Regions from separate parts of the Homo sapiens genome. Here regions 2 and 3 are each linked to region 1. The links come from fine-mapping of genetic effects on gene expression. A gene starts in region 1. Each other region holds a variant in brackets. All regions are shown on one strand. Distances are between the middles of the regions. Region 1 holds the start of PCA3 (prostate cancer associated 3). Region 2 overlaps PRUNE2 (prune homolog 2 with BCH domain). Region 3 overlaps PRUNE2 (prune homolog 2 with BCH domain).

Region 1 (8,187 bases):
TAGCCATAGTGGGCATGGAAGGGTAATGCTGAAAACACCGAAAAGGACAGTGTTCGGATAGAAGATAGGAGCCAGTGTGCACTCCCTCCAGCTGGGTTTTTACACCCCTGGATAGACTTGTGCTGGGCAGGCTGGATTCATTTAAAGATTCACGAGAGATGCACGATATGTATTAAAACAAAATAGGGTCAAGAGATGAGGCTTTAAGGTGCCTCCTGTTAGGGGAGGAGGAAGATGAGAAGTCAACAAAGAAGGTAGGGAAACAACCATGAGAGTAGTGTCATGCAGTCACAGAAGCGAAGGTTCTGGAAAATAGTTCTTTTTCTTTTTAAAGAGGTGATCAATGGAGTCAAGGGCAAGGAAGAAGTGGAAAGCAAGGAAAATAAAGAATCTGTGCTTTTTTCTTTCTTTCTTTTTTTTTTTGAGACAGAGTTTTGCTCTTTTTGCCCAGGCTGGAGCGCAGTGGCACAATCTTGTCTCACTGCAACCTCTGCCTCCCGAGTTCAAGCTATTCTCCTGCCTCGGCCTCTCGAGTAGCTGGGATTACAGGCGTGTGCCACCATGCCCAGATAATTTTGTATTTTTAGTAGAGACGAGGTTTCACCATGTTGGTCAGGCCGGTCTTGAACTCCCGACCTCAAGTGATCTGCCCACCTCGGCCTCCCAAAGTGCTGGGATTACAGGCGTGACCCACAGTGCCTGGCCAAAGATTCTGTTTTGAATAGGTCCTTGGTGACTGCCAACAATAGTTTCAGTAGAGGAGAGAGAGTTTATTTGTTAAACAGATATTTATTCATCAGTAAGTATGTTGGAGACGCTATACCAGAATACAGCAGTGAATAAGACAGGCAAGGTTAAGATTTCACGAAGCCTACCTTCGCCTTGGGGGGAAGGTGTGGCGAGGTGGGAGAGGTAGATGATAAACAATAAATAAGGAAAATGGTCATTTTGAATAGTGATCATGTGTATGCGTTGTGTATGTGTATGCCTGTGTATGAGTTGACAGTGACAGTGGTAGGGTTGGACCGCAGAACAGTGCTTTGGAGAGAAAGCCCTCACAGAGAAAGTGATGTTTGGACTCCCTATGTGATAAGAAGCTACACATGAAAAAATCTGGGGATTGTACATTTCAGGCTGAAGAAATGGCAAATCCTAAGGCCCTAAAGCAGGAGCAAAATTGACATGTTTGAAGAAGACGAGTGTGACTGGACCTCTGTGATTGGGGGGAAGTGGCGCAGGATGAAACGAGGGAGGTATGTAAGGACCAAAACATGGAAGGAAAGCAAGATTCCCAGAAAAAGTGGATGGGAGAGGCACTATCCATGAACATGATCCAGTTGTCCAAGAAAGTTAATTTAGCAGAAAGAAATGGAATGTTAATGTTGGTTCAGATGCAGAATCTAATATGTGTTTTATTTTAAATAAGGGAGAGTTAAGCATCGTTAAAGACATAAGAAAAGAGAAAGCTGACTCCTTTTCTTCCAGTGACCATTAGTAACGTATTCTCCCACAAGGCACACAGCCACCCACTCAATGCTGTCATTAATCCCACACAGATAGGCTTTGCCTGGGGAGTGAACATATGGTATCCCCTGAAGCTTTTGTCTTTTCTGCTTGAAGCTAGTTTGTAAAAATCAAAAATGATATTGCATTTACTTTGGTATATTTCTAAAGAGTTTTTTTTTTTTTTTTGAGGCAGAGTCTTGCTCTGTCACCCAGGCTAGAGTGCAGTGGCGCAATCTTGGCTCACTGCAACCTCCGCCTCCAGGGTTCAAGCGATTCTCCTGCCTCAGCCTCCCAAGTAGCTGGGACTACAGGTGCCTGCCACCACGCGCGGCTATTTTTTTTGTATTTTTAGTAGAGACGGGGTTTCATCATGTTGGCCAGGATGGTCTCAATCTCTTGACCTCGTGATCAGCCTGCCTTGGCCTCCCAAAGTACTGGGATTATAGGCGTGAGCCACCGCGTCTGGCCTCTAACGAGATATTTCTAAAGGTTAGGCCTTCAGTCAAGAATTTTAAAGCTGGATCTTAGAGGTTATCTAAACTAACCTCTCCATTTCATAGATAAGGAAAGTGAGTCCCAGAAAAGCACTGGTTTGGACAAGTTCAGAAAGCTAAACAGTGACTGTGGATGTATGATTCTGTCTCTTAACTCCTAATCCAAATGTCTTCTCACTAGATAAGGCTGTGCCTTCTACATTTGAAGGCTCAAACCCCATGGATGGATGGAGGGAAGGATGGGTGGAGGGATGGATGGATAGATGGATGGATAGATAGTTTACTCATTCATTCAGTTATGCAAGAAAGATTGAGCCACCTCCCCATCAGACAGTGTGCTAATTGCTAGAATGCAATTATGAGAGCTGTTTATAGTGCCTGTCTCTATTCTGTATGCCTTCCTTACCTCAGTTGAATCCAGGGAGGTATATAATCCCACCATTCTATTGAAACCCCTCATCAAGATCACTAGTGACCTCTGTTATCAAATATAAGGACTATTTACCTATTCTTATCTTTCTTCATAGCATTCAAAACAATTGACTACTTCCTTCTCCTTGATGTCTATTTCATCTTGGCTTCTATGGCATCGTTTTCTTCCAAATGCCCCCCACCTGCTGGAAGCTCTGTTTCTGTTTCCTTTGCTGGCTCCTCCTCTTGTGTTTAACTTCTACATGTTGGAATTCCCAGCTTGGTTCCAGCTCATTGACTTTTCTCTAACTGCATGTCCACTCTAAGTGGTTATATGTTAATGTCACGCCCCCAACAAATGTACATCTGCTACTGAACTCAAAACGTATATCTCTAACTTGCCTGCTTGATATCTCCATTTAAATATCTAATGGGTATCTCAAATTTAACATGTGCTAAACAGAACCTTTGACTTTTTCTCTAAATCTGCTCTGCATCATTCTTCTCTCTCAGTATAGTTAGTCAGCAACATTAAACAAGTGTCTTCTATGTGCCAGAGTCTGTTGTAGACATTGGGGTTACAGTAGTGATGAAACAGACAAAAATCTCTAATATCAAGTACCTTCCATTCCAGTGGAGGGAGAAGGATCATGGAAGCCAAGCAAATAGCTTGTTCACTCCAAAAAGGCCTAGGCCCAGCCACCACCTCTCACCTTAACCATTGCAATAACTTAACTGGTGTCCCTGCTCCTACCCTTCTGCTGTCCTATCAACACAGCAACCAGAGTAATTTGTATAAAACACAAATATAACAGAAACACAAAACCTCTTCCCCAACTTTAAACCTTCTAGTCACTTCCCATAGCTCTTTGAATAAAATTCCAAACCCATTCCCATGGCCTACAGACCTCTGTATCATCAGGTCCTTCCCACCATGCAGATCTTCCTGGTCTCCCTCGGCTGCAGCCACACAAATCTCCCCTCTGTTTTTCTGATGCCAGCTTCTCGGCACTTGCTATTTCTTCTGTCTGGAACACTCTGACTTCAGAATATGAAAGCAGGTGGCCACTCCCATCATGCAAGAATGCCAACCCACATACAACCATACCATTTCTCAGATTTCCCAGTTTAAACCTTCCTTCTGTCTCATCATGCTCCTTCCCGTCACACTATGTTGACACGTTGCTATTAAAAATTATCTTATTTATTTATTTATTTATTTATTTGTTTGTTTGTTTTCTGCCTCCATGCACTGAAATGCAGCTCCATGAGAGCAGTGACATGTCTGTCTTGTTGGCTCCTATATCACTGGTGCCTAGAACAGTGCCAGAAACACAGGAGTTGTTCAGAAGTATTTGCTCTGTGAATCAACGAATCAATGAATGCATTGTGAATGAGGTTATTGGTCCTACCCTTGCCCAACAAATAATCTTTTAACCCTAACGAAGTTGAGATCCACAGGTCAATTCCTAAGGTGCTCCTCTAGTGAAGTCTTGTCCAAATGTGAGTTCCCATCTTTACTAATATCTTTCAAACAGTGTAACTCAATCGAAGTGCTTAGTCCATGGCAACTCATTAAATTTCCTTTCCTCTTTTATTTATTGACTCATGGGCACCTCTCACTGTCTAAACACAGAAGAAAGCTCCCTCTTCCCCATGCTTCCCCATGCCCTTTATCCCACTCCCTCTTCCCCACTACCCCTCTCCTTCTCCATATTGGGCCTCCCAGCACTTCCTGTCACTGCCATACCATTCTCCTCCCCACCTGCTCTTCTGCAGTATCCACCAACGTGGCTTTTAATCTCTCAGTCCTCAGAGAGCACAGGAGAGGCAAGGAAGCTAAATAGACGACACCAGATCCTCTCTTGGGGACGGGGGATATGAAACTTCATCTGTTCATTACTTTTGTGTCATCCCAGTTCATTGGTAGAACTGGGCAAGTACACCACCAGCTTGTGTTTGAAGTGGTATTACGAGTATGTTTTCTCCAGGAGAGTAGAGAGTAGTTGCGTCTAATTCAGACTTGGGGTGAGCACTCCCAGAAGCACGCCTATGCTTGTTATGGCTCACTTAGATGACTACACTTACTGCAAAGCCTATTAATACTTAAGCCACATAGTATACCAGGTACTGTACTAAGTCCTTTAAGGTAACTTATTTAAACCTCACGTAACTCTGTGACACCAGTAGTCCTGCTATGATCCCATTTTATGGATGTGGCAACTGAAATTAAGTAACTTGCTCAAGATCTCATGACCAGTAATTGACTTGACTTCCAGTGCAGGCAGCACCTGGGCTTTTTGTCATGATGCTATAATGCTGCCCCGACCAGAAGAAGACCTCAGTCTTCACATCGTTTGACACAGGACTTGAGGAAAAGTACACATTGCCAGATGGAGCTAGAAGGGGAGATGGTGCACGAGGTGGGAGGAGTGCAGGTTTGCGGTAGAGGATGTGTCTCAGAAATGGCAACCATTCAATGAGGTTGGAGCCAAAGACACAGTGGGGAGTGAAGGAAGCTATTTTGTCTGTTTTAAAAAAATTGTAAATCAGAAACCAAATATCCAGTTTGCTGGTTTCTTTTGAGGATTGCTCTGCCTGGGATTTATCTTGAGTCCAACTAAAAACGTTTTACCTGGTTTGTTTGGATTAAGATTGCCAAGTTGTGGAGCCACTGAGGCTCCTTACGTGTCCACAGCCATGCTCATGGCGAAGGGCCTGACTCTGGAGCTCAATCTCATGTGGTCGTGTATGTAGGGACCTCCGCCTCCATACAAGAGCTAGGACTGGAGGAGCCACAGACAGTCATTCTACACTGCCTGCATTTTGAACATGTAAAAAGAAACGTGGAGAGTTTGGAGAGTTTGAAAAGGATGGTCCAGGGGGCTGGGGGTAAAATTACTGCAAGAGTATCTCACCACCTCTCTCAGAGTTTGTTAAGAAATGAACATGTGTGGAATCTATAGTAAAAAGTGGTATTAAGCATTTTAAAGATGGGCCTCTTCCAGAAAGTTCGAGCCAAGCAGACCGCCATCTGGATTATTCCCATGGTAGTTGCTCTCTCTGCGCACATTTCTGCAACCGCCATTCCTGCCTCCCTTATTAATAGGTTATCCGGAAATGACTTTGGATCACTGCTTCCTATGTTAACACACTTTTTGATGAAATAACAGAGAGTATTGTCATTAAAGATTTGGAAAAAAGTTAAATCTTTACAGGAGTCAAATGCAGCACATTTAATGGTTGTTGTAGAACTCAGGGCAAAGAAATCACTTTTTCCAACAACAGAAGGAAACTGTTGGTGACTTCCAAACTGGCTAAAGGTCCTTGTTCTAACCATTCTTTTTGTTTAAAATTGCTAACCTTAAAAATGATTTCAGAGTTGGCACCAGATGCATTGGAGGCTGCTAAAGTACACTTAGGAAAGACTTTAAAGCCATTAAAGTTATATGACAGTATTTTGAAGTTGTCTTTTAAATATGACGGACCCAGTTGTTTGACCATACATGATACATAATATGATATAGCTCCAGAGTGGCATTATTTGGAACAGAGTTTATGAATCATTTAAAAATTGTACCTATAACCAATGCAAAAGCTATAATTCATGTAAAGCTATAAATAATCTATCTCAAAATCTACATAAGATAGATTGACAGAGTGCTATTTGGAGTTTATGGGTCTTTTGATAAACTTTGATTAATATTCTCAAGTCAATCATTGTTGAATGAAGTATTTTAAAATTATTTGGTGAAAATTATGTATGTTTTCCAGTGTTTTCTAAAGACTTTCACTTTCTAATGGAAATTCAGAGCCACCTAGTGACCAAAAGTAAAATGTCTAAAGTATAAAACATGACAACAAAAACTCCCAGCAAAAGAGAAAAGCAATCATTTGACCCCGGGCTTTGATGTCCAGAGATAAAATTGTATCCAGTTCAGGTCTACAAAAGTAGAATTCTTACAAATTAAATTGACTAAGTCTTTTGTTATTTGGGGATTAAAGGCCCCTAAACATAGACTTGAGGTATATAGATGATTAATTTTTGTCGACACCATTTTATCAAATGAGAATTGTCTGACTTACACAAATATAGGTGACTGTTCCTCACAGATGCATCACCCCTTCCTTGATGGTGTGTTCCACTTCTGACCAGTTTGTGTATTATGACTCAAGAAAAAAAAAGATGGGGCAGCAATCTCACAGAAGACAGGACCAATGGTGGAGGAGGAAGAAAGGCATGAGGTAGATTTAAACTCCCCAAATGAGGCTTCTAATTCAGATTCATTTTTCAGCATAAAGATTCAGGCAATTCTATTAAATTTGGTTGGATTAAATTCAGCAAACCTCTGTTGAGTATTTTTTTTTTTTTTTTTTTGAGACAGAGTCTCAGTCTGTCACCCAGGCCGGAGTGCAGTGGTGTGATCTCGGCTCACCGCAACCTCTGCCTCCTGGGTTCAAGCAATTCTCGTGCCTCAGCCTCCCAAGTAGCTGGGACTACAGGCATGGGCCACCGCACCCGGCTAATTTTTGTATTTTTAATAGAGATGGAGTTTCGCAGTGTTGGCCAGGCTGGTCTCGAACTTCTGGCCTCAAGTGATCCACCCACCTCCACCTCCCAAAGTGCTGGGATTACAGGTCACCGCGCCCGGCCCGAGTCTGGACATGTACAGGTTTCTTGCTAGGCATGAATGCAGTAAATCTAAGATGCATGTAGAGAGCCAGGGTTTTCGGCTTGGTTGAAGTAGAGTGAGTCTAGAAGGACACATAGAAGATGAGGGTGGAGAGGTAGGACGTGGCTGTGATGTGGAATACTGTGATACCTGTTCCTTTTGGGGGGCTTTTGGCTAAAATCATGGTCATAGTTAGGATGATTAATCTGGATGCAGCATGTAGTGTGGACTAATGCAGGGTAAACAGATGTCAGGAAGAGCAGTGAGGTTATTCTAATGGTTTTGGATACAAGTCATAAGCATGTGACCTGGAATTATTAAAGTAAGAAGGGAAAAAGTAGATTAGAGAAAAAGAGAAGAATCTTTGGTACTGATATGGGGGAGCAGTGATATCAAGGGTGACTCCAAAATATCTGCCCTAGGTGATGAGGAAAAGAAAATGATAGAAATAATATCCTATAGCATCAGTAATGGACAAAAGGGTACCAGGGAAGTAGCTGGTGTGTGATGGAGAAAATGTGAGTATGGTTTTGATATCCATCCATTCATTCAGAAACATATACGGAGTGCCTGCTGTGTGCCGGGTGCTCAGGTTGCAGTACCATCAACAGACCCCAACTGCCAGGTACCCAGGGAAGAGGAAGGCAGCCCTGTTTCTACACCAAGGAGCCAGATTAGAGCCAATGGACAAGCTCTTTGCCAAGTGCACCAGCTTTTTAAACTAATTTATTTAAATTGTAGGGGATAACTATTATTATGTTAGTGTACAAAGGAAGTGAAACTGGAGAATTCCCTGACTGCCCTCGCAGGACGTGTGACAGGGGTGTGGCTCATCTGTTTGGCAGCTGTGTGCTCAAACCCCTTATGGGAGGAGGAGCACGCAGATGGGCAGGTGCAGGAGCCAGGGCGAGTGCTTCTGGGCTCCGGCCCCGTGGTAGCATCTAGGGCTGGGTGCCTGTGACTCCCAAAGCCCCAGTGGGCATGCTACAGTGCTCTTTTAACTCTGCAGTCCACAGATGGCTTAAGTGTTAACCAGCTCAGTGCCCTCTTGGTACCTGGGTTCTTGTCCAGCATCCAGGAAGAATCAGGCCACATGGATAAAT
Region 2 (8,187 bases), 150 kb after region 1:
GTTGTGCTTTCACAGTGGTGACAGTGGGGAAATGTTGACTGCTTCCTATTTTTTCCTTGCACTCAGAACTAGCTGCCTTTACAATGATCCAGAAATGTCTTCTATGGAGAAGGAGTAAGAATTCACCATCAATAACAGCTATGTGGTTACTTGTAGTGTTGTATGGCTGGGCTCTGAAAGAAAACACACTGAGGACTGGGTAAACCCTGTTTAGATGTTCAGCTTTCCTGTGCTCCATTCCTGAAATTAGAAACCTGAAGCTATATTTGCCAGCTTCACACCATTTCATTCACGATCACCCCTTAAATTTCTAAAGGACAACCTGTGGACATGGCATTCTATTTTTCCAATCCAAAAATGGGAAGAAAATGAATATTAGGACCAGATGTAAGAACATTTGGGCAAGAGGAATGCAATTCTGCTTTCTGAATGACATCATCTCTATTTTAATTAGTGGAAGTTGGAACTTCCATTTAATACTTTGGTGGATGGAGAGAAAATGTGCTTGTTTTGCAACATCCAGGAGGAATTCGAGCCTGTATGAGACTGTAGGAATGATCTATTTAGAGGATTGCCATCCTGTGAGAAGCAGAAATTGGACATGTAGTGAGTTCTTAACCACGTTCCAGACTGTAAAAAGCTTCACACGCAGTGTCTGATTTTAATCCTCAGAATAAGTTTATGAGGTACATTTCACAGATGAGGAAAGAGAGGCATGGAGAGACGATCTGACCAGCCCACTGTTTTACAGCTGTAAAAATGGCCCAGAGCTGGAATTTGGACCTTGGCAGTATAGCTCCAGGGCCAATGGTTTTTAAATCAGAAAGAGGTGGTCTTAATGCTAGATGGGTGTACCACTTCCAATTTAATGAAAGACAAAACTATTCACCTAAGAGAACAGAGCGAATTAGTGGCCAAGTCAGTTTCAGGGAATAAACTGTGGTCACCAGCAAGCTTTCAGAGAGAACTTGGTCATCCGACAAGGAGCTTCCAATTTGGTTTGAGTTGTGGAGAATTTAACATTGCCCTTGTTCCTAGCAATCAGGAAGCAGAGGGGAAAGATCAGTTTTAAATGTGTCTCATCTCTATTGTCACCTTTTGCTGTCTTTGGACCTCCTTTGCGTTGAGGTCCAAAAGGAAGTTGGAAAATTATAGTGAAATATCTTCACATTTGCCATGTTGACCTTGCAACTTAAAGGAAGTTTAGGCACAAAAACTCCAGAGACAGTCCCAACTGAAAAAGTTCACAAAGAGCAAAGACTGGGCCAATTCTGGATGCATGCCTATGAGTTAGCCCTGCTCTGCAAGGAAAATTTATTTTTTCTAAATAAAATTTTAAAAAAAGAACAAAGACCATAGAGAGACCTTTGAAATCACACAGCTATTTTTCCAAAGGTCACTGTTGTCCCACCTCTTTTAGATGAAGATAACAATTGCTTCAAGGAAATTGGCACATGAAATTCTGCAAAGCAATAATACCTCAATTCCCCAGTGCACGATAATTCTTTTTGCAACTATTTCTTCCCTCAGCAAAACAGCACCCCCCTTGAGCAGTTAACAGAGCCCACAGTTAACAAGCAGCAGAGAGGGCACATGTGGAAGCCCAGCCAATGGCTGGCCCATCGCTGCTACATCTTGGGGCTTACCCACTTCTTTGCTTGCCTTGTCTGTCTTGCTTCTTATTCCTACGTAGGGCTGTTTGGTTGGGAAGAGGGCAACCATTGCTTCCTGTCTGGGTTCATTTCAGGGCTGGGCATGGAGGAGGGAGGGATACTACAAATTGTTATTGTTACTTCCCACTTTTTAGAAGAACATATTCTTCTCAAGTCTTCCCTTTCTTCAGCCCTCTCTTTCCTGAGCCCTTAAGAGGCACAAGATCACAGTGTGGATGATGAGATCAGGATAAGGGGCAAGAGTAACCAAGAATTTTTTTTTTTTTTCTGACTTCCAGTCCTGGATTTCTGGCTTTCTTTGGTATTAGAATAAGGGCTGCATTTACTTCTTCTGGCACCTTTACACTGTAGGCCATCAAGGACAGAGGAGCATTCTGTGTGGAAGCATTTTACACCTTCCAGAGCTAGTGTTGAATGAATACACTGCAAAATGGGCAAGGGTTCTTCCAATGGGCTCGATCAGTCCAAGAATAAGATGGAGTGTGTGCTGTTATCGTAGTGGCCTCTCATTTTCCTCAGAGACAGAAGGGAAGGTTATGCCCATTTTCTTCTTTCTACATAAAATGCAAATGTTTTTATTCATCATTAAACAATATTGTCTGACAGTTTGTAAGGAACCTCATTTAATACGTGTTAGACACAAAAATGGCCTATTGTAAAATTATCAGAAGGTTGCTCTGTCTCAGGAAAAAGTTGCTTATAGAAAACTAAGCCCATTTGCCCGAGGATTAAGAATATTCAATTCTAATTAAAAGTATTCTTTTTTCCAAAAAGGATACTTTTATTTATTTATTTATTTATGTATTTATTTATTTATTTATTTTTAAATAGCCCTGGGTGCTTGTCTCCTTCCCTTTTAGGTTTGGATTTTATGAATTTCTTCATGTTCCAAAACTTGCAACATGCCTTTTTATATTTTTACATATTTGTTTAAAGTACAGTGATCAAGAGTGGCTCTATTTGAAGAAGCTTAAATTAGCATCATTGTTAATAGCTTTGTTAACTCCACAACGTTGCTGTTCTCTCAAATATTAACCTTCCAAGTGGTTTCCTGTATTTACTTACAAGAAAATTGTTCACTTTTGACTATCTCATTTATTTCATAAACTGGGTAAACAGGTTCCAGTCTTTTAGCTTTTGAGTTAACGAAAGCTGAAGGGATGAATTAAATCCTAGAAGATTTACAAAAAAGTCAGTACGAAAAATAATCGAGATGGGCATCCTGGTGTAAGTGTTAGCTCAGGGGCCCGATGGTGAAACAAGGTGACCATGTTCTTTTAAGCTTCCAAGACTATTTCACATATTCTGACCCACTCTCGCAGTTTTTAGACGATGTGCCCCAAATTTTGGTTTAGTAAATATTCTCTTCATCTATGGGAAAAAGTCAACCAACACCGTGAGAGAAAGAATCAAATTTCCAATCACCAAATCAAACTTACTACAGATTTCCGGGAACAGGAAGGACCTTTTAAAAGCAAAAACAGTATATTTTTTAAATGACCTGTTTTGTAAAGGTATATGAAAAAGATGTCGGGGTCACAGTGGATAAAAAGAGGATACCTCTAAAGCAAACTCTGCAGGTAAGAAAACAAGTCAGAGGGCCTGAAAACTAGAAATATTCATGATGATTTTGGCTTTCCAAAGGAGACAAGATTGTTGCAAGTAGGGTAATAAAGCGAAGAGCTATTTGCTCATTTCAAAAAAACACTGAGGGGCCGGGCATGCTGGCTCATGCCTGTAATCCCAGCACTTTGGGAGGCTGAAGTGGGCGGATCACGAGGTCAAGAGATCGAGATCATCCTGGCCAACAGGGTGAAACCCCGTCTCGCTAAAAACACAAAAAATTATCTGGGCATGGTGGCGTCTGCCTGTAATCCCAGCTACTCGGGAGGCTGAGGCAGGAGAGTCGCTTGAATCTAGGAGACGGCGGTTGCAGTAAGCCGAGATCGCACCACTGAGCTCCAGCATGGCGACAGAGCAAGACTCCATCTCAAAAAAAAAAAAAAAAAAACCACACACACAAAACAACAACAAAAAAAATCCACCGAGGTACTATTGCTGCTAATAATAACAGACATTATGATATGTTCATTATGTACAATTGAAAATGCTTTAGACTTATTCATTAGCAAGCTGTGAAAGCGGTATGACCGTTCCATTTTACAGATACAGAAATGGAAACTTAGAGAAGGTGGGTGACTTGGCCAAGTCCCCACTGCTAATAAGTGACGGAATTGCTGACTATATTTCAAAGGAAAGATACTTTACTACTGTAAACTGGATGGGCAGGCAGCGTGAGTTGCCAGTGGCTTTATTTGCAAAGCTTCTAGAATGAACACTGCTCAGCTGCCGCAAATTCCACAAGTAAAGCACAGTAACCTTTGCAACATGCAAGCTTATGGCTCAGGGAGCAGAGATAAGCAAAATCCACAGATACGTGCCAAATCACCCTTTGCAAACTAATAGTTTCTCTTTTATCGCAACTGAAATTCTTCCTCTATTTACTGGCTTTTGGTTTTCTTCCTCTTGGGTGGATGCGGTAGGAAGTTGTGCTGTGTTCACTAAGAAGCAGAAGAGAGACGTGATTC[G/A]AGTGAGTTTTAGGCTTACTCCTCAGATACTTGGGAACCCATTTGACCTTCTGAAAAACAAGCTTTTCTTTAGTTATAAACATCCATCTCAGTAAGGTAGGCTAACCCCTTTCAGTCAATTCCTTTGGCTTCTAGAAAATGTTTGGTGTTGTTTTGTTGTTTACCATTTCTTACTATTTAGTGCTTGTCAGACATTACTTACTTGAGGCAGAACATTTGTTTGCTTCACAAGGAAAGGTCACTTATTAAATAAAATGGCATGATTTCTGGAATACACTAATGCTCCTTATCTTAATTGACTTTGGGAATGAGCCTTTACATGAGTTTTTTACCTCCCTGGATCATTTTGAAAAGGTGTAAAATGCTTCCAGAAACGATTTTGTAGAACTAAACAGATTTCATATGTTGGAGAAAAGCCTGACAAGAGGAGGATTGGGTTTTACCAGATTTTTCTATTATAAGAAACTTGCATGATTTAAATATTTTCAGTATGTCCTTTGAGGAAAAAAGCAAACACAGTGCTACCCAAATCATTACTAAATGTCTCTCATTTGGTTTCTCATGTTTCTCTCTCTTTTTCTTTTCTTTGCAGTATTGACTTGAAGCTGAAAGAAAAGCCTTAGTTGGCCATGCTGGAAGAAGAGGATGCTTTTCTGGTTCATGGTTCTGTTGAAACATATCTACCTGAAAGAGACAGGGCTGATGTTACCTTTTTCCACTTTGCACTACCTGGTGCCATTCTAAATTTCTAAGGGGAAAAATAGAAAGTTTGTTTACTCTTAAGATATTTTATGAAATTGTGTGTACTTTCCTATTTTGCCAATTATGTGCCTCAAAGATTTTAGTTGAGCCTTAGCAAGAAAGTAGGACCTTCCATTTCAATACTTCATTAACACGGTGTAGTGATACTTTGTCCCTTAGACTGGTGTTTACCAGTAAGATACCTTTAATCCACTGTTAAGTATGAGTGGATTTGTTTCCATAGATTAGCTGGATTTCCTTTTGGTGATTGCATTAGGTTTAAAGTACACAGGTCTCAACTCTCCCCAGGAAAGTTTCCCCTGTTTGACTCCACCTTTAAAATCCTAAGCCTGACTAGGACAGCCACAAACCACACAAGGTGTAAAACCATCATCAGCTAAGTGCCCGTTTTGTTCTTGTTTACCAGAATCTCCTTTAACTTCTCAAAGGGAAGCCGGGCTTTCTAATCCACGTCAACTTTATTTTAGTTGTCAAATTGGGCATTATATTTTATGTAAATTGGTCTTTTAACATCATTTTCCTGATGAATGTTGGTGACCACCACATTGTGAAATTTAAGAATCCGTGTTGCATGTTTGGTAGCTCTCTGAGTTTCAGGCCATAAACTCAGCTCCAGAGGTTACCTTTTAAGTGCCAAGAACTCAAGTGCAAGGTGGCCTACTCAAAAATCATTTGGTAGCATTCAGTTATTCATGAATTCCTCTCTCGCATGCATTATAAAAAGTGATCTGCTTTAAAACACCGTAATCTGATCATAGGCTTAAAATTAAATATGAGTATTACTTTCATGTACAAAATATTTCCTTTATAGTCTTCATATGCCCTTTAAAATGCCAACAAGATTTCAAGTCTGTAGGCCTCTAGTGAGGTGGGGTGGCAAACCACAGCTAAGTCTCGCTCACCACTGCAAGCTAAGAATGGTTTTTACATTTTGGGTTGGAAAAATTTTTTTTGAATATTTCATGACACATGAAAATTATTCAAATGTTAGTGCCGATAAATAAAGTGGTACTGAAACACAGCCACACAAACTTGTTTTTGTACTGTCTACAGCTACTTTCACACTACAGCCGCAGAGCTGAGCAGTTCAGCAGACCGTATGTCCCACAATGCCTAAAACATTGACTATGTTTACAGAAAAAGTTTGCTGACCCCTGCTCTAGCAAACGCATCCTTTCCTACTCCACCCCAATTTGTATTTAGATAGTTTCTCTAACAGAACGGACAAATGAGGCTGCAAACTAATTTATTTTTGTCAAAAATCAATGTTTTGACATCCACAGACAGTGAAATAAAAGAAATGGCTTGCTGAAAAACATGAGGAGTCCTAGCCACAAAATCACTGCTTAGGTTGCAATTGCCAAAATGAAGCCTTCTTAGAAGCACTTCTTTAGTATATACAGGTGTTGGCTGAAGTCCGTGCCTCACTCTGGGAACCATTCTTAGTCTCCAGTGTCTCCTATTACAAAGAAGCTGGCAGAAATAAAAATGAAGGGGTGAGAGCGGTTCCACCCTAGTCTCATGGTGGAAAATTCATTGGGGAGAGCTGTCCAGGATATTTGGAGTCCTGGGTAGAAGGAGCTTGTAACTACTTTAAAGTCGACATCTTTGCACAGGTGATTGAGTTTCTCTGACCTCATTGCTTCACCTCTGTCTCCTCCCGTCCTTCCGCACGTGCCCACACACACGCAGTTCAGCCCTCTTTCCTCCATAAGCCTCCATCGTTTTCTCTTTTCTCCTCTTGATCCTTTCAAGCGAGTATCTTGTTGAATTGTATGTTCTGTTGGATCTCCTCCTTCATAACATCTGGCTTGTTGGACAGAAAAACCCTACAGCCCACCCCCTCCCACAGCCCACCTCCACTTTTGAAAGCCCAAATTACACCTCTCCCAGAACACAGTGTTGACGTAAATACAGTTACCCAATATTCCTGTTTGTTCACCTATTTGCTACTTTCACTCAGTAGCATCCCATTTTGTAAAATGAATTCCATGGTCACCCTGTCACAGGAAGTAATGAAAAATCCAGTGTTCAGTGTAGTGGTGCAAACCTGAGGGCATAGAGCTGTTCATAGAGGGCTCTTGTTATAGCCAAACAGACACAGCAACAATCTCACCATTTATATATATATTTTTAACTTGTCCAGCTCATCTATGGAAAACTACTCAGGTGGTATGCTGTTTGAAGCCTCATCTTCCTACATGAAAATTATGGGCATTTGTCCCAATGATTTTGTTTCAGCTGTTCTGTAGGCTGCATAACCACTCTGATATTTAGGTATCTGCTATTTTATTATCTTAAAAGACAAATTAATTTAATTGCATGTGCTAGGGAAAAGCTACCATGTACATTCACCCCAAGTAAATAGAATCCTAGATGAATCCTAGAAAAATAATCCCTAAGCAGATAGGTAGACAGAGGTAAACATTCACATGATTTAGCTCTCTAGCTCTTGCACTCTGAACATTCTTGCTTTGGTTCTGACTTCTGGGAACTGCTTTGCATTTCTCCTATAGATCTGTAGTTAAGGGAACCAAGGGGTCATTGGGGCAAAAGCATTGTTTCTCAAAGCTCCTTGATTAAGAGAAAGAACAGAAATTTGCACAGAAGATAGTGTCAAGGAGTGAGAAAGTTTGTTTGAGGGCAGTAGCTCAGTGTGGAAGAAAATCCTGAAGTTTCTGTTGAAGCCATACAATGTTCTATGGGGTTACTCTCTAAGACATTCTCTGAGGTGTGTGAGGAAGTCACTACTCCTAGCCTTTGTTAAGATGTAATTTTAAATATTCAGTTATGGTACTATGTTTGCAACTCTCGTCTTATCACAATGCCTCAGTAGTTTGTTCCCTTAGAAACATTTAGATGTGCACAAATTAATCTTTTATATATCTAAAGGTTTTTCTATCATGCATTGGATTGCTCAGAATAAAGTGTCTGTTAGACTTCGTTTTGGTAAATAAATTCTCCATAATGTAGATTAATAATATAAAAGTCTTTAATGACACAATATATCTATATAGCCTCACTGTATAATTCAGAAATAAAAATTGATTCTGCATGTGATGGTTTTCTTTCTTTGAGTCAGCAAGAATTTTTCTCTGGCTTCACTTTGCAGCAGTTTTATCTCAACATCAATCTAGCTTGGCACTTGGTACTGGAGGACTGTA
Region 3 (8,187 bases), 27 kb after region 1:
TTGGGTTCCTACACATAGATTATTTTAAAATTTTTGTGAGTGTATTCTTCACCCTTAAATCTTGACAAGAAATCAGCTTTGAAATCTTAATGTGGCCCTATCTCTAGGAAAGAGTTCATTTGATGTGGGGTTCAAGCATCACTAATTTAAATAAGTGTAGGAGAAATCAATATGTAAGAGTGTCTAGGAGAAACCATCTCAATAGTGAGATGTGAATTTGTGATTATTTAAAAAACAAAATTAGTTTTCTAACTTTTAGAAACATATAACTTCAATCAGCCAACAGATGCCTGATAACTAGAGGAATTTTGGTTATCTACCTCGATCACTAGCTAAGAGGGAATTCTAATTAAATATTAAAATTTATGTTTTAATTATAAAAATGTTTAATTAAATATAAAGGGTTCTTATTCTTAAGCAAGGAAAACATTTGTCTTGCATTATTTGAGAACCAATAGATGTTTTTTCATTGAGAAAGCAAATGCAAATTTCAAACAATCCACCATTTGTATTAATTAGTAGAGTTCATATTAATACAATTTTATTTTAATGCCTTTTGGCTCTCTTTGAATTGACTCGTGTTGGGGCTCAGCCAGATGACCCTTCAATGCCTAAATCTTTTTTTTTTTTTTTTTTGAAACGGAGTTTTGCTCTGTCACCCAGGCTGGAGTGCAGAGGCACGATCTCAGCTCACTGCAAGCTCCACCTCCCGGGTTCACGCCATTCTCCTGCCTCAGCCTCCCAAGTAGCTGGGACTACAGGCACCCACCACCATGCCTGGCCAATTTATTGTATTTTTAGTAGAGATGGGGTTTCACCATGCTATCCAGGATGGTCTCGATCTCCTGACCTCGTGATCCGCCTGCCTCGGCCTCCCAAAGTGCTGGGATTACAGGCGTGAGCCACCGTGCCCGGTCTTCAATGCCTAATTCTAAATTAACCTCCACATATAATTAGAAATGATCCCTGCTCTTTTTCACTGAGCACTGGATATTTGATAGTTAACTTTGTTTTTTTTTTTGAAACAGAGTATCATACTGTCGCCCAGGTCAGCTCGCTGCAACCTCCACCTCCCAGGTTCACCCAATTCTCCTGCCTCACCCTCCCGAGTAGCTGGGATTACAGGTGTACACCACCACATCCGGCTAATTTTTTGTATTTTTATTAGAGACGGGGTTTCACTATGTTGGCCAGACTGGTCTCAAACTCCTGACCTCGTGATCTGCCTGCCTTGGCCTCCCAAAGAGCTGGGATTACAGGCATGAGCCACCGCGCCTGGTGGATAGTTAACATTTTATTGAGAATTAATCCAGGTCTGTAGTCCCCCATCTACAATTTTGAAATCTAAAGAGTTCCGAAAACTCTAGGGCTTTTGAAACTCTGACAGCAAACTCTGATGTGATATTTATGGCCTTTATCCCTCTTTATATATTTTGATGCATATATATTTGTGTGCTTTAGGGGAGCTGCCCTAGGCTTCACTTGGGTTGATTCATAGTATACATTATAAGCACCATTTTACCTTTCTCAAATTAAAAAAAAAAAAATTCAGTAACAAACTATATCCCTGGTTCCAGGGATTTCTGGTAAGCGATTATATAGACTTATATTTGGGAAAGGCTCAGTGGTGCTTGCCAACCCCATTCTTTTTGTTATCATCATTCATGATAGCATTAAAGACTATTAATAGTGTCATTTATTGAGTACTTCCTGTGTTTATAGGCATGGCTCTAAACCGAGAGCTTGAGGCTGTCACTTTTCACATCGAGCCACATCACTACTTAATGACAGAGCTGCATGGGCTACAGCTGGTATCCAAACCAGGAATTCTACTCCTGCACTCTAGCATTTATTTTTACATCTACTATATATTTGTCCATGAGATTTTTCTCTTCCTCCTTAGTATCCTGTTTTACTTCTGCAGTTTGGTGTTCTTTGTGGAAAATGGGATAAGAATAGTGGAATATACGAGGTAATCCATGCGTAATGTAGTTTGGTTGAGGCCCTTAAGCTCTTAGCTCCCTCCCCGTGTCAGTTTTCTTATAAAATTGGATTCCAACACCAGCTCTGCCCACTTCACAGGGTGATTATGAGGCTGTGATAAGATAATAATATATTTCAAAGTCTTTCAAAGGGCTTTGAAAGGTTAATGTGCTCTATGACACATGCTACCTTTGACTTCATCCCTCTAAAAATCTTCCTAAAGCAAAGTAATTTCAATTCTAAAACATGAGAAGTATCAAATAATTCTTTTGTGCTTAATGTTCAGACTTCTAAACAGAGGTTACCTAGAGTTGGTTACTCAGAAGAAGAAGGAAGATGATGAAAGCCATGATGTCTCTGAGCATACACTGAAATGCATCCCTCAACTCTCATGACTTTTTAGGAACCCGCCATCTTCAGAGAGTGTCAGTGAGCCTGCAGACCTGCAGTGGTTAAATCAATAGTTAATGATGTTCATCATGTAATTTGAGCCTCTAGTTTGTTTATGCTAGACCAACTTTATCCATACTCCAAACAAATTATCTCTTATAATTACCAGCCCGAAGATAAATCTCTAAATGTTTTTCTGATGATAGTGCTATGGTTGGCAGGTGTTAAAAGTGCCTCCCAGGGACAAAGATTGAAGACGAGCTTGTTCCCACAAATCCTCGAGGCGAGGATGTTGAGCTTTCTATCCTGCCATGTGCAAAGGAGCCTTGTATGGTGCCCTGCTAATGAAATCTAATAGGCAAAGGTCGTACATCTTTACAAAGAAAAATGCAAAGTTGGTTGTGTGATAAATGGGCTCCATGGGGCTCAGTGGACGCGATTTAGTGAAAAAACCCGTGTTTAAACAGTCAGCTCGGTTGCTCGCTAATGTTTACGCCTTAAATATCCCCTCACAGTGATTCTCCTTACCTGGTAGAATGATTAAATACAAAAATAAGCATTTTGTATGTTTTTAGTGCTCTAAACCAAAGTGATTGGTCATCTAATGTTAATATTAACATTAACCACCAGAAAAAAAACACTTTGAAACATTTAAAACACAGCTGTAGGTATTTAAATAAGTCGTTGTTTAAAAAACTACCTAATTTAAATGTGCTATTAAAGTCTCTTAAAAGAAGAAGTCTTAGGCTCTGTATGTTTTAATCACTGCTTTCAGAATACTAAATAATGCATGCAAATATGCAAGGTTTTATCCAAAAAATTGTTCTGCTTAGAAATGCAAAAATAAGTTAAATCTGGAATTATAAAGAGTTAAATAAATCAGATATTGTTGAATTGAATCACTGCTGGTTTTAGGAGAAGTTACCAGTTCATTTGCTGTAGTTGTACTGCTGAGCCAAGAGACAGTTCAATAAATCAACTCAAGCTTGATGGATTCTTCAATTCATTGAAATGAGTGCATGGAAGAGAAAAGAAATCTCTTAGTATTCCCTCTTTGACAAAAGGGTATGCAAAGAGCCTGAATGGATGAATGGTTGATTAATTTTGCCAGAAATTTTCTTGACAGCAGGAAATATGTTTTTGCATTACTCTGTTTGCCTGGGATTTATTTGGTAGAATATGAATTCTTGCATGTAAATTTGTACCTGAGGCTATGTTGCTAAAGTAGATAGCTCCTGGTACAGTTTCTGAATACGGGACCTGTAATATTTTTGTATGGTCATGCACTCCACACCTATATGTGCTGCCCTGCAGCGGTGTCTATAAATTTCTGCTGTCACTGATGTTAGCAGAACAGTCGAGCACTGCCAGTGATTCAATATTGAGCTTGGTTTGAATGCTCATCTGTGCTTGTCTCAAGAAAGGATGGGGCTGGAGGCAAGCAACTGCCAGAGCTTCATAATTCCTTGACTCATCAACCTGGCAGCTTACTAATAAATAGACTCTAACCTGTAAATAAGGAAGAGAAGGTACAAGGTAGCCTCTTGTGCTTTCTATACAGCAAGGCTACAATTGAGCACATTTCTTAGTTTTATCTCATCAAGAAGGAATACAGCTACACACGAAAAGAACTTGGCTGCTGTTGATGACAGCAGAACTGTGTGCGAACAGAAATGGGGTAGCCTCTCCATTTACCATCTTATACTGTCCCATAAAGAAGGATGCTGCACCACATAGAGTGGCCCCACCTTTCCCGGGTCAGTGTGGAGGGTAGGAAGGCTTGTGGTTCTCAAAACCTGTATGAGGCAATAGATAATACAATAATTGCTTCCATTTAGACCTCTTCTGCTGCCATGTTCAGGTACTGGAATACTAGGAAGCCCAAGAATGAAGTCATGTACAAAGAAGTGCTTTATTTTCTCCCTACTCGCCGGTCTGAATGTTTGTGTTGCCCCAAACTTCATATGTTAAAATCCAAATCCCCAAAATGATAGTATTAGGAAGTGGAGCCTTTGGGAGGTGATCATGTCATGGGGCCAGAGCCCCCATGAGTGGGATTATTGCCCTTATAAAAGAGACCTCAGAGAGAACCTCAC[C/T]TTTTCTGTCACGTGAGGACACAGCAAAAAGATGGCAGCCTATGAATCAGGAGGCAGGTGCTCATCAGACAGCGAGTATGTCAGGATCTTGATCTTGGACTTTCCGTCTTCCAGAACTGTGAAAGATAAATTTCTGTTGTTTATAAGCTACTCAGTTTGTGTTATTTGCTTACTGCAACCTGAATGGACTAACACACCATTCTTAAATTATTTACCTTCTGTTCATTTTGTTTTCCTTCTAGAGGTTTACACTGGAACTTCCTCTTTCTTTTAGATACCAGACCAGAAATTATCCATAGCATAAAGTATGTCATATGACATTGTGCCTGATTTTACTTTATGTGGTTTTTTTTCACACACCCACATTGAGTCTCTTGAAAGCATACCACCAGAGTGCTTATACTATTTCTGAAAATAAGTATATAGAAAAAGTATCCCTTTACAAATTTTGAATACACACACACACACACACACACACACTCACACAAACCCTACTAATCTCTAAGGCTGAAAAATATTTTCATCAGCTATGCAAATTTGGTATTTCATATTTTCTCCTTAGATTACAGTAAGGGAATGAAAAATGATTAAAAGATAATGTTATGTGAAATAAGAAATTTCCTTGTATGTTCTTATCAGATATGATGCCCAACCTCAAATGAGAACAAATGACGCATGTAAATGTACTAGAATAAAGCTTAGAAAACTTGGGTTCCAGTTCCTGCTCCAGCATCAAATAACTATGTATGATATTGGGAATATTTTTGAAGCTTTTTGAGCTTCAGCTTTCTCATCTGTTAAATGGGTATCACCAATTCTTATCTTACTACCAGCTAAAGAATTGGTGAACATCAATTAAGATTATTTTGATCATATGTAGAAAAGCCAATATTGTTCTATAGACATAAAATTTTACTTTCTCTTTAAGTATTGTTACACTTTTAAGTTTTGATTCTTTGCATATGATAATATCAACCTTTGTTTGATGGAAGCTTCTTAGGCTGGTGCAGCCTAATGAGTGATCCTAAAGTCTTCCATGGTCAGCCTTCCAGTTACTCCTGCTATTCCCTTGTTCTGGGCTCGTAGGAGTCCAGCTGGTAGGAGCCCCAGTTCTTTTGGTATCTCGGTAACTTAATTGTCAGCCACTACGGGGCTAGCTGCTAGTCATAACTGGCATAAAAAAAAAAAAAAAAAAAGAAGAAAGAAAACTATCTTCCTCAATAAAATGTGGGGGACTCTGCTTCTAAAACGTAAACAAGTAATAATTTGGAAGAAAAGCTTTTCTCTTTGTGTGGCCTCTGCTCCTGCAAATGTTCATTTCTCTGATTATAATCAGTAGGTTTTCATAAGTTGTGGCCTCATCTCTCTATTCTTCAGTTGTAAGTGACAGAAATTCAACTCAATTTTGCTTAAGGAAAACAACAAACTGCTCTGTTGATAATCCAGGATAGATCTAGCTTCTGATACTCTTGGACTCAAACTCCAAGTGTGCCATCAGGGCTTGCCTTTTTTCCACCCCTTCCCTCTGTTTCTCAGTGTTGTCCTTGTCCTCAGGGATATTCCTCTCTCCATGACTCCCCAGGATGGCTCTGGGTAGCTCCAGGGCTTGCCTTTTTTCTCCACCCCTTGCCTCTGTTTGTCAGTGTTGTCCTCATCCTCAGGGACACTCCTCTCTCCATGACTCTCCAGGATGGCTCTGGGCAGCTCTAGACTCATGTGATCCTAGATCTCCGTGTCTCAGAGGAACAGGGAGCTTCAAAAACCCCTATGGAGTCTTTGAGTAGCCTCGCTCAGGTCACATGTTATTCCTGAAACCATCACCGTGGCCAAGTGGATGGAACAGAGTATGGCTAGGCCTGGGTCACCTGCCACACCTAGAGCTCAGGTTAGGGGTAAAGACAGCCCCATGTCAGCCATATGAAGTTAGGAGGATTCCTCCCCAAAAGAAGGGATGACAGACAAAAATGCTTATGTCTGTGACAATCTGAACTCATTTTTATTTTAAACTGTTATTTCTAATATTCCAAGGACTTTGCTAGCATTTTATATGAACTATCTCATTTAATCCTGTTGATAAACTATGTAGTAGGTATTATTATTCTCATTTTCAGATACAGAAACCAAGGCTTCGAGGTTAAGTAACTCACCCAAAGTTGTGTAATGAGAAGTGGCATAGCTGAGATTCAAATAGAAGTCTGTCTCATTTGAGAGCTAGAGGGTCTTCCTGACTTCACTATCTCACCATCTTTTTTCCTGTAGGTTCGATGATCTTAAAATTTAAACTTTTTTTGTGCTTGTACCACCTTCTCCTCTGTCCCTGATTCGACCCCTACCTCCTGAACGTCTTTCCATTTTAGGATTATTAAATCATTGAATATCAGAACTGGAAGGCACCTTACAAACATCTACCCAGCCCCTCCTTTCCACAGAAGGAGGGGAGATCTTCTGTGGAACCTCCAGGGAGGTCCTTTTTGTGGACTTCTGAGTGTTTGAATGCTGCCAAATCTGGAAACAGACAAATCAACTCATTTTCATGATGCCCAGACTTGAGTAGCCCTTCCATTGAATAACCTGAATCCCCTACATAGAAGGCATTCAGTAAACACTGTTCTTTGATAATCAAACTAGTTTTTGGCTACAGGATTACTGAAATCATTAACGTTATCCATCTTTCAAAGAAAAAAAAAAAACAACTAAAACTTTTAAGGAACAGACTGCTTTAAAAAAAAATCTTTTTGGATCACAAAGTCAGTAGCAGGAAAAACCCTAAGAGTAAAATGACAGTTATTATATTTTCCTGTTCTGTGAATTGTGTGAAGATTAGGGCAAATTAATTAATTATCTTACCTCTTGATATTGTACAGGCAAATTAATTAATTGTCTTACCTCTGATATTGTACAAAGTTCATAGGGCCAAGTGCTATGGCTCATGCCTGTAGTCCTAGCACTCTGGGAGGCCGAAGCAGGCAGATCATTTGAACTCAGGAGTTCAAGTCCAGCCTGGGCAACATAATGAAACCCTGTCTCTACAAAAAATAAAAAAAAAAAAATTAGCCAGGCGTGCCTGTAGTCCCAGCTTCGTGGGAGGCAGAGGTGGGAGGACCACTGGGGCCCAGAGGGTCAAGGCTGCAGTGAGCTGTGACTGTGCAACTGCACTTCAGCCTGGGTAACAGAGTGAGACCCTGTCTCAAATAGATGAATGAATGAATGAATGAATGAATGAATGAATGAATGAATCTGTGGTTTATGAGTATTGCAAAGACACTAGAGAGCCAAGGAATGAAGTCAGATATTTGTGGTCTGGAACAAGCTGTGTTGATGTGCAATATAGCACTTCAGTCCATGAAGCTGTGTTGATGTGCAGTAGCACTTCAGTCCATGAAGATGTTGCCATCTGTTTTCTTGATGTTGGGGCAGTGCTGTATTGTGTGTGTTGGGTGGTACTGGGGGAGGCTGAGTACTGTGATGCAGGAGCAAGCACCCATACCTGTGGCTACTCAGGCAGAAGACCGATCTCTCTCAGCAGGTAGAAAAATGACTCTACCGTTATTTCCCCAAGTAACCAGGTACCTAACTACTTTCAGAAATTTAAAAAAATCTATATAAATGGCAGCAATGGAGACGAGAAGCAGATGTCCAGTTCTGTCTTCTGAGGTATTTTTGTAAACTCCTCTTTCCCTCTTGCCAAGAGAAATCGGTGGTCTGTTGGTGGCCTTTT

Evidence for each region. PIP is the estimated chance that this variant, and not a neighbour inherited with it, causes the effect.
Region 2: its variant is fine-mapped to the expression of PCA3 in cerebellum (GTEx, PIP 0.96).
Region 3: its variant is fine-mapped to the expression of PCA3 in cerebellum (GTEx, PIP above 0.99).

Annotation. Positions count from the first base shown.
Region 1 is chr9:76,759,688-76,767,874 of GRCh38, reverse strand. It overlaps PCA3 (prostate cancer associated 3), which reads right to left and starts at 3,437. Exons shown (of 4, transcript NR_132312.2): 1 at 3,320-3,437. The region is part of intron 6 of PRUNE2 (prune homolog 2 with BCH domain); the gene reads left to right.
Region 2 is chr9:76,611,267-76,619,453 of GRCh38, reverse strand. PRUNE2 (prune homolog 2 with BCH domain) reads left to right here. Exons shown (of 19, transcript NM_015225.3): 18 at 67-114; 19 at 4,854-8,078. The coding sequence ends at 4,884. All of the region lies in intron 5 of LOC105376095 (a long non-coding RNA gene), which reads right to left. Among named protein-coding and RNA genes, the nearest start is that of PCA3, 150 kb to the left of the region's middle. The variant G/A (reference allele first, on the strand shown) is at 4,262.
Region 3 is chr9:76,732,898-76,741,084 of GRCh38, reverse strand. All of the region lies in intron 6 of PRUNE2 (prune homolog 2 with BCH domain), which reads left to right. Among named protein-coding and RNA genes, the nearest start is that of PCA3, 27 kb to the left of the region's middle. The variant C/T (reference allele first, on the strand shown) is at 4,470.